Linked DNA regions of Homo sapiens. The protein of the gene in region 1 interacts with the protein of each later gene in a pairwise test. Each region holds a gene or a part of one and is shown on either strand. Other genes may lie near its edges.

The links.
Region 2: the proteins of MEF2C (region 1) and EPAS1 interact in a two-hybrid assay, tested with the Homo sapiens proteins (one large-scale study listed by BioGRID and IntAct).

Annotation. Positions count from the first base shown.
Region 1 is NC_000005.10:88,718,876-88,722,701, forward strand, and holds part of MEF2C (myocyte-specific enhancer factor 2C), read right to left. Parts: coding exon 3,729-3,826; 3' UTR 1-3,728. UniProt on the Homo sapiens protein: Transcription activator which binds specifically to the MEF2 element present in the regulatory regions of many muscle-specific genes. Controls cardiac morphogenesis and myogenesis, and is also involved in vascular development.
Region 2 is NC_000002.12:46,356,226-46,360,051, forward strand, and holds part of EPAS1 (endothelial PAS domain-containing protein 1), read left to right. Parts: coding exon 1-77; intron 78-498; coding exon 499-583; intron 584-3,826.

The DNA.
Region 1 (3,826 bases):
CCAGTATTCCAGCAATCTTCAAAAGATCTGTAGTGGCAGGAAATTAACGCCATAAAAGTGACGACATCACGGCAGATGGCACAAATGAGAACAGATGAAGTATGCCATGCTTAGGCAACAGCCTTTATTGAGGGTTCAAGTGGCTTCTTCTTCTTTAAAAAAAATGTTTTTTAAAGAAAGAACTACAAAGCGTTTACTCTCTGGAGAAACAAACAACAAAATAAAGAGGGCAAAAAATGCTATCTCTAAGTTAAAAGATGGGTATGTAAGAAAAACAAATCCATAAAAGTGTGTGAGGGCAGACATTCTTTTAAAAAGTGTCTTGGAATTTTGTTTTTTCATTCTCACTTTAGTTAACTTTTAAATGATCTGGGGATGACAGGTATTTTTATATTCATCATTACAAAATGCTAAATTCCACCTTTGGGAAAAAATAAGCCATTTTACTAAAAAACACAATTTTTAAAAAGGTTGAAATAAACAGCCTCCACGCAGCAATGCATACAATATACAGGTTGTGCAGCTTGCGTATATTGCATCACTGTTACCAGTATTCAAGCTTCATATTACCAAAAATCTTTTAAAATAGGATTAGATATAACAATACTCGCAGCCGTGTAAAATGCCACTTATGGATCTTTTACTTGCAATGAAGAATGTTGCCTAAAATGTTACTCTAGGACGGGTTATGTAAAATAATACTCCCTCAGGGCTCTGCCCTAAAGTCTGGAATACAAAGGATTTACTGTGATTAAAAACCATACTAGCTTTGCAAATACAATAAATGGTAAATTACAGATAAGGTATAAGGGTAAAGATAGACCAAGATTGTTTACAGAAAGTGACTCATCAAAATCAAAATTGTGCTTCTTCTCATTAAATCATCTTTTAAAAATTCTCAGATTATCCCTTCCCTATCTTGCCACCACTTTATAAGAATTCAGTAGTGGGAACAAGAGATGACTGGCATCCATTTTCAAGTGATTCTGTTCTCTTCATGTTCTTATAAAACTATTGTCAGAACTGCTATAAATAGCCAAGGCTTCTGCTGGTACTTTAGCTTACTTTATCTTCAGCATTAAAAATTCACTTTTTCTTTGTTGCTGAGGCAAATTGCAGGTTAAAAAACTAATATGGCTATTTCTTCATATTTTCATGTAATGACCCTTTCCCACCCACTGGTATCTACTGATATTGATATACTAAAGTATTTTGAAATGACAAAGAACATTTGTGAAATGTTTGCATATTTTATACACATCAAGTTAGAAGGATGGGTTGTAAGGATGGGATCAAGTCTATGGTGAGGAAAATGATTTTCTTATTTTATTCCCCTGTGCGTGTGTGTGTATGAGTGTGTATATTTTCAGGGATGTTTTTGTTTTTCCTCTGCATAAATGTTATTCTTTCATGTTCCATGGATACCTTGAGTAGTGGGATATATATGAAATGGTTGATAGATTTTTTTTTTTTAATATATAAAACATTAGTACAAGGCAGGCTAGCATCCTTTATGGATACAACCAAAGGTGCATTGTGGTCTAATTGTGGATTTCAGATCAAGTTAAGAAAAATATAGCCTAGTTAATAAGGTCTCTTGGCTTCTGCCACCCAGCGGCAGCCTTTTACAATGAGAAACACATAGCAACTATGCAAGTAAAAGAGAAAAAATGGATAAGAAATGTCCTACACATGATATAGCAGTGTTGATATTACTGCCTATATCTTCTTTGCTGTGTATGTCAATGCATATGATTGGAGATGAATCGACAGATCTTCACATTCCAAGAGAAGGAAAATCTTTCCTAGACTGAAATATCTTTTAAACAATATATATTGACTTTCTTATGGCACTCACTTATTAAAGGGTCTGAAAATTAATCCCTTATAGACGAATATTAGACAAGAGTCATTTTTTTTAAATTAAAAAAAGGGACATAGAGAGGTTCTTTATGGGATTTCTTGAAATGGCTATTAAATCTCTTTATTGAAGAAAAAATAGATGACATACATGCTTTATGCAGAAGTGACATTTGGGGGTCCTGACACACCGGGATTGTTCAACAGTCCTATATTGCTGACAAGATTGTCAAGGGTCAGTTAAAATAATTAAAAACGGATGACAAAGCAACTATCCCTTTACCTGCTTCCTTCTTGTCTAGCACCCAGTCTTTCACATTTTTCTTCTGTGGGAATTTATAACTTATTCACCAAGTAAATTCCATATCACTTGTTTCTAGGGCCATATTTGCAGGACATGTGCCCCAACATAGCTTTTCTATTCTGGGCATATTTCTAAAAAGCGTATCAAATTCTAGGCTGAAAACCAACCAGATGATTTAGAATATGGGCAAGTTAGGATATGCACTTACTGAATTCCAAGATGCATGGTGAAATGGTGAGATCAGAAAGGGGCCCTGCATTTGATAAAAATGCAAAAAACAAAATAAAAATAGCATGAAAGAAACTAGTATATACAATGGATGTCAGTTGACCCAATAGATTGCTAATGTATTAAAAACAATTTAGGGTGTTGCAATGTGATATGTTCTAACCCCACAGGTTATCCTTTTGACAGCTGACCTTAAACTTATAAAATGTAAGCAGAGTAAAAGAAAACAGAAAGAAAATAGTTACTCAAATGTGCAACTGCACAAATATACCCCCCTCCCGCTATTAAGATAACAAAACTTCTGCTATTACCATAATATTATATATATTAGAAAGCTATACACAAGCATGTTAATTTCACAGATTTTTTTAAAAGATTCTTAATATTTTATATAATTAGAAATACACATTTCAAAAACAAAACTTCTACAAAGAGAAAACAGTTATCTTGGTTAGCAAAGCATGGAGTTCTTCATGGCTTAGGGTAGTGCTTTCTATACAAAAAGTCCTTTTTGGTTTTTTACAGGACTGTTTAAAATATTAGCGAAGCTATCAAGGGGAAAAAAACACATTTTGGCTTAAGTAAACTACAAAAAGCCACAAATGCTTTGCAAACTCTGTCTTACCTTTTATATGAAAATAAGCAAAATGTAATGTACATATTTTTATATTTTTATTTAATAAGAGATGCAGACCCAGATTTATTTATTTATTTAATTAAATATGTTAGCCCTCCAACTCCACATTTTTTTTTAATAGGTATGGTCCTCTTTTAATGGTCTCTGATCCTTTTTAATGAGTGCCATACGCCAATGATATGCCTGCAGGTTTGTGAGCATTCTTGGGATGTCAGGTGACCTGGTGTGTTCCTAACATTTACCAATGGCCACCCATTACCGGGTCTGTCCAAGCATCTATACATTTTTCTATATGTTGCATAACAGCTGCTCTCTCTTTCAGTAAAGATCTGCCGCTTTTGGCAAATGTTTCCTTTTGTCTATTTACATGTAAATAACGTTGAACCTGCAACATGACACTATCTATTGTAACATACATTTTGCAAAGGAGCACAACAGTGAAAAGAAGTTAGCCTTAAAATCTATTTTGTACAAGTGTTCTGTTGTACAACTCAAGTGCTAAGCTTATCTCAGCATTTCTGTTTATCTTTATACTGTATCACTGAGGCAATTTAAAAGTACTTTTACAAAACAGAGTACCTGACTTTTTTTTTTTCCACACACGGCACATATAATGCATATCGACCCCCCTTCCCCATTAAGGTATAGCACACACACACACTGCAAGAAAAAAAAAAAAACTAGTAAGTAATAATCTGATCATGTTGCCCATCCTTCAGAAAGTCGCATGCGCTTGACTGAGGGACTTTCCCTTTCGTCCGGCGAAGGTCTGGTGAGTCCAATGGGGGAGTGGAATT
Region 2 (3,826 bases), on another chromosome or scaffold:
TCATTGCCGTGGTGACCCAAGATGGCGACATGATCTTTCTGTCAGAAAACATCAGCAAGTTCATGGGACTTACACAGGTGACACCCTCCTCTATCTCTTTCAAAAGAAGAAATGTTTCCATTTGGGGGTAGAAATGAGTGGAAGGTGCTAGCCACAATCCCACTTGACCTCTCCCTGCAAATGCCCACGGTGACCCTCGCTGACCTCAGGCCACACGCCTCAGGCCACGCTCCCACCCCCAAGCATTGGGTTTGGCTTTGCTCATGTCCATCCTGGTAGACAGCTCTCTACTGACTCATTAACAGACCAAGTCTCTGTCATCATCAGTAGTCCCCGATTACATCTTTCTGTCTGTGGACCTGACACTGGACTGGGATTATGAGAAAACCCAATTCAGTCTCCTCCCTGCCTCCAAATCTGGAAGGTGGCTCAGCTTACTCTTGGAGTCTTTTACTTCACTGTTAGGAATAATGATGCCTAACCTTGTTTTTGAAACAGGTGGAGCTAACAGGACATAGTATCTTTGACTTCACTCATCCCTGCGACCATGAGGAGATTCGTGAGAACCTGAGTCTCAAAAATGGTATCCTTAATTGTGTTTACTTCCTTCTTGCCCCCACTGGGTGGGAATCTGCCTCCCCTTTGTCTACGGGTATAAGGGAGATAGCTCATGGCCCTTGTGATGCAGGAAAAATGGATGTCCTTAAAAAATTTAAGTATGTAGCCTGTGAGATGAGATTGGGGCATTGAGAGGATCCAGTACTCAGAAATATCTCCTGCTGGCCCTGCATGGTGCCTGGTGTCCCACTACTAGGGGACACCTTTGGGTTAGGACACTGTCTCTAGGAGGTTTCATCACCCAAGAGTCAAGCATCTCTGCCAAATGACACCACCCAAACCAATGAGGAACTAGTCTGTGCCAAAGTGCTCATAGTAACTACTGTAGTTATCTATTGCTGTCTAACAAACCACCTATAACATAGGGCTTTGATGATTATCTCCCAGGGTTCTGTGGGTTCAGTGGGTGGGTCTTGTACTCCATGTGATGTCAGCTGGGCTGCAGTCATCTGGGGGCCAGACTAGGCTGGGGTGATCAGGATAGCTCACACACGTCTGGGACCTTGTGGCAGGTGGCTGGAACCCTGGACTCAGTTGGCATGCTGGGACAACAGGACTGTTCTCTCACTCTATGGAGACTCAGAGACTCTCCCTCTCCATATGGTGTCTCTAGGGTAGCCAGACATCTTACGTGGCAGTTTAGGGCTCCCAGAAGCACTAAAGTGGAAGCTGCCAGGCCTTCTGAAGGCTTTGTCCCCAGATTGGCAGAGCATCACTTCTGCCCCATCTTGTTGGTTAGAGCATGTTACAGGCCAGCCCTGGCTCATTGTGGGAGGAAACTACACGAAGCCATGAGTGTCAAAAGGCATGGCTTGTTGGAGCTACTTTTGGAGAAGAGCTACCACAGGAAATGGTACCCTGATGAGACGCAGGTCAAGTAGGTTTTGATGGAGAAGAGGTTTAAAAAGATGTAGCATTCAGGACCTTACCCATGGGGATACCCAGCAGGTGCCAGTAGATGAGAGGACCCACACAGGCAGAAAGCACGTTGCAATGGTTGCAATGGCAGTGGAGCTTCCTGTCTTGTAACTGTGGCCATTCAACAAAGGCATGAATAGGGACATTGTTAAGAGGACTGAAGCTTTGGTCAGAATTGGGGCTTAATGACTGTCAAGGTCCCTTCCAAACCTGAGATTCTGTCACTGGTCTGGGGAGATTCTGTGCATGTCTAGATGTCCTCTTTAACAACCTCACCTGTCACTGCCATGGGGCTTGTGCTTGTCCAGCCTGAATAACAGAGGCAGTGAGGCTAAGCCTACAAGGTTTGGCTCTTATTACCACACACGCTGCAAAAACAGACACTTCATTGGCTCACCTCCACCCTATTACAGACTGAGTCTGCAGTCCACATTTGGGCCTGCAAAGTACAGAATCACAACCACCTCCTCTTCTACCACTGCCACAGCTCCCTCACCCAGCTCCTCTGCTCTCTCTTCTGCAGGCCTTAGACCACCTGGGTCCTAGGGTACACTGGCAGAGAGCACCCTGTAGGCTGCTCAGTGTCTTGTCTGGTTCTGTGGGGAAAGGGCTACCAGACTTTCTAAAGCTCTCTAAAAAGAGGATTCATGTTCTGCATGGGTAGGTGCTTGAAGCCTGAGAAAGCCTGAGAAAACCAAAGACTGATTTCTTCTGTACTCCAGAAACCCTTTGGCCTTTGGGTTCTTAGTGTCAGTTCAGCCACTGACCATAGTCTGAGTTTGAGTCTGTGACCAGAAGCAAGTACCCTACTTCTCTGTTCCTCAGAGTCTTTCTTTTCAAATTGATGGTATTGGACTAGGCAAAGGCGACAACCTTTCAGTTCTCAAGTGCCATGATTCACAGCCAAGTGACCTCTAATTATCTGAGTAGAACTTTAGATCTCTTGATCTGCATATTGAGGACTTGGGATCAGTCAAACTCAATGCAACAGCAAATCTTCACTGAAGGTGCCAGCCTATGGGTGGACTCGTGATCTAGACCTAAAGGGTTAGTGTGAGTTCCTAGAGGAAAAGAAAGCCATGAGGCAGATTGTGGAAGGCTTTGAAGGCCAGGTGGAGGGCCTTGAACTTTATTCCATAGACAATGGGGAGCTATTGAAGGTTTCTGTGCAGGGGTGGAGTGATCTGTGTGGAGCAGTGTTTAGAAAGAATGAACAAGGCCAGGCACGGTGGCTCACGCCTGTAATCCCAGGACTTTCGGAGGCCAAGGTGGGTGGATCACGAGATCAAGAGATCGAGACCATCCTGGCCAACATGGTGAAACCCCATCTCTACCAAAAATACAAAAATTAGCTGGGCGTGGTGGCGCGTGCCTGTAGTCCCAGCTACTTGGGAGGCTGAGGCAGGAGAATCACTTGAACCCAGGAGGCAGAGGTTGCAGTGAGCCAAGATCACGCCACTGCACTCCAGCCTGGCGACAGAGCAAGATTCTGTCTCAAAAAAAAAAAAAAAAAAAAAAAAGATCAAATGTCAGCATGGGGAGAATCCAGAGGTTAGCAAGTTAAGAGGCCTCAATAATACCCCAGCAACAGCCACAAATGAATCCCTCCAGCCCCCTTATACCCAACAACTGGTCTGGTCCTGGTGGTGGGGCCAGATCCCAAGATACAGGTATATCTCATTGTATGCTAACCCCACCTCTGAAAATTAAAATGGCAAGAATCATAATTTGGTATGGGAGAAATGGTTTTATAATCGTGATGAAGGAATGTTCTCTCTTTTTTAAAAAAATTCACTATTCAGTCTGTTACTGAGTGGGGTCCCCTAAGGATGTTGAAGTTTTGTTCAAGGGTGCCACAGTTCCTTTGACACATAACTCTTCAGGAATATGTCAGTCAAGATCCTCTGGAAGTTTAAGTGCAGGGGCTGGTGACTGTTCCTGGAGGAAGGAGTGTGACTATTCGAAACAAGGCTCTAGATTGTTCTATGATGCTGGGTAGGGGGCAGGATTATATCTTTGAAAGTAGGTACCAGAGATGGTGGTGTAGGCAGGATTTAGACACAGACAAGTGGGATTCAGCTGGCACTCTTCATTACTTTGTTTTACAAAAAGTGGAAAATGGTTCTGAATCGGGAGGCTGTTTGGCAACTATAAGGAAGTAAGCTATATTGCTGGTCTTGGTGATTTAATTTTTGCTGAGAGAGAGGATATGATCCAGGTTGAGTTAATCCATAAAGTGGACTTGCTCACCAAGTCCACTGTAAGGAGATTCGTACCAGAGTTCTCTCTA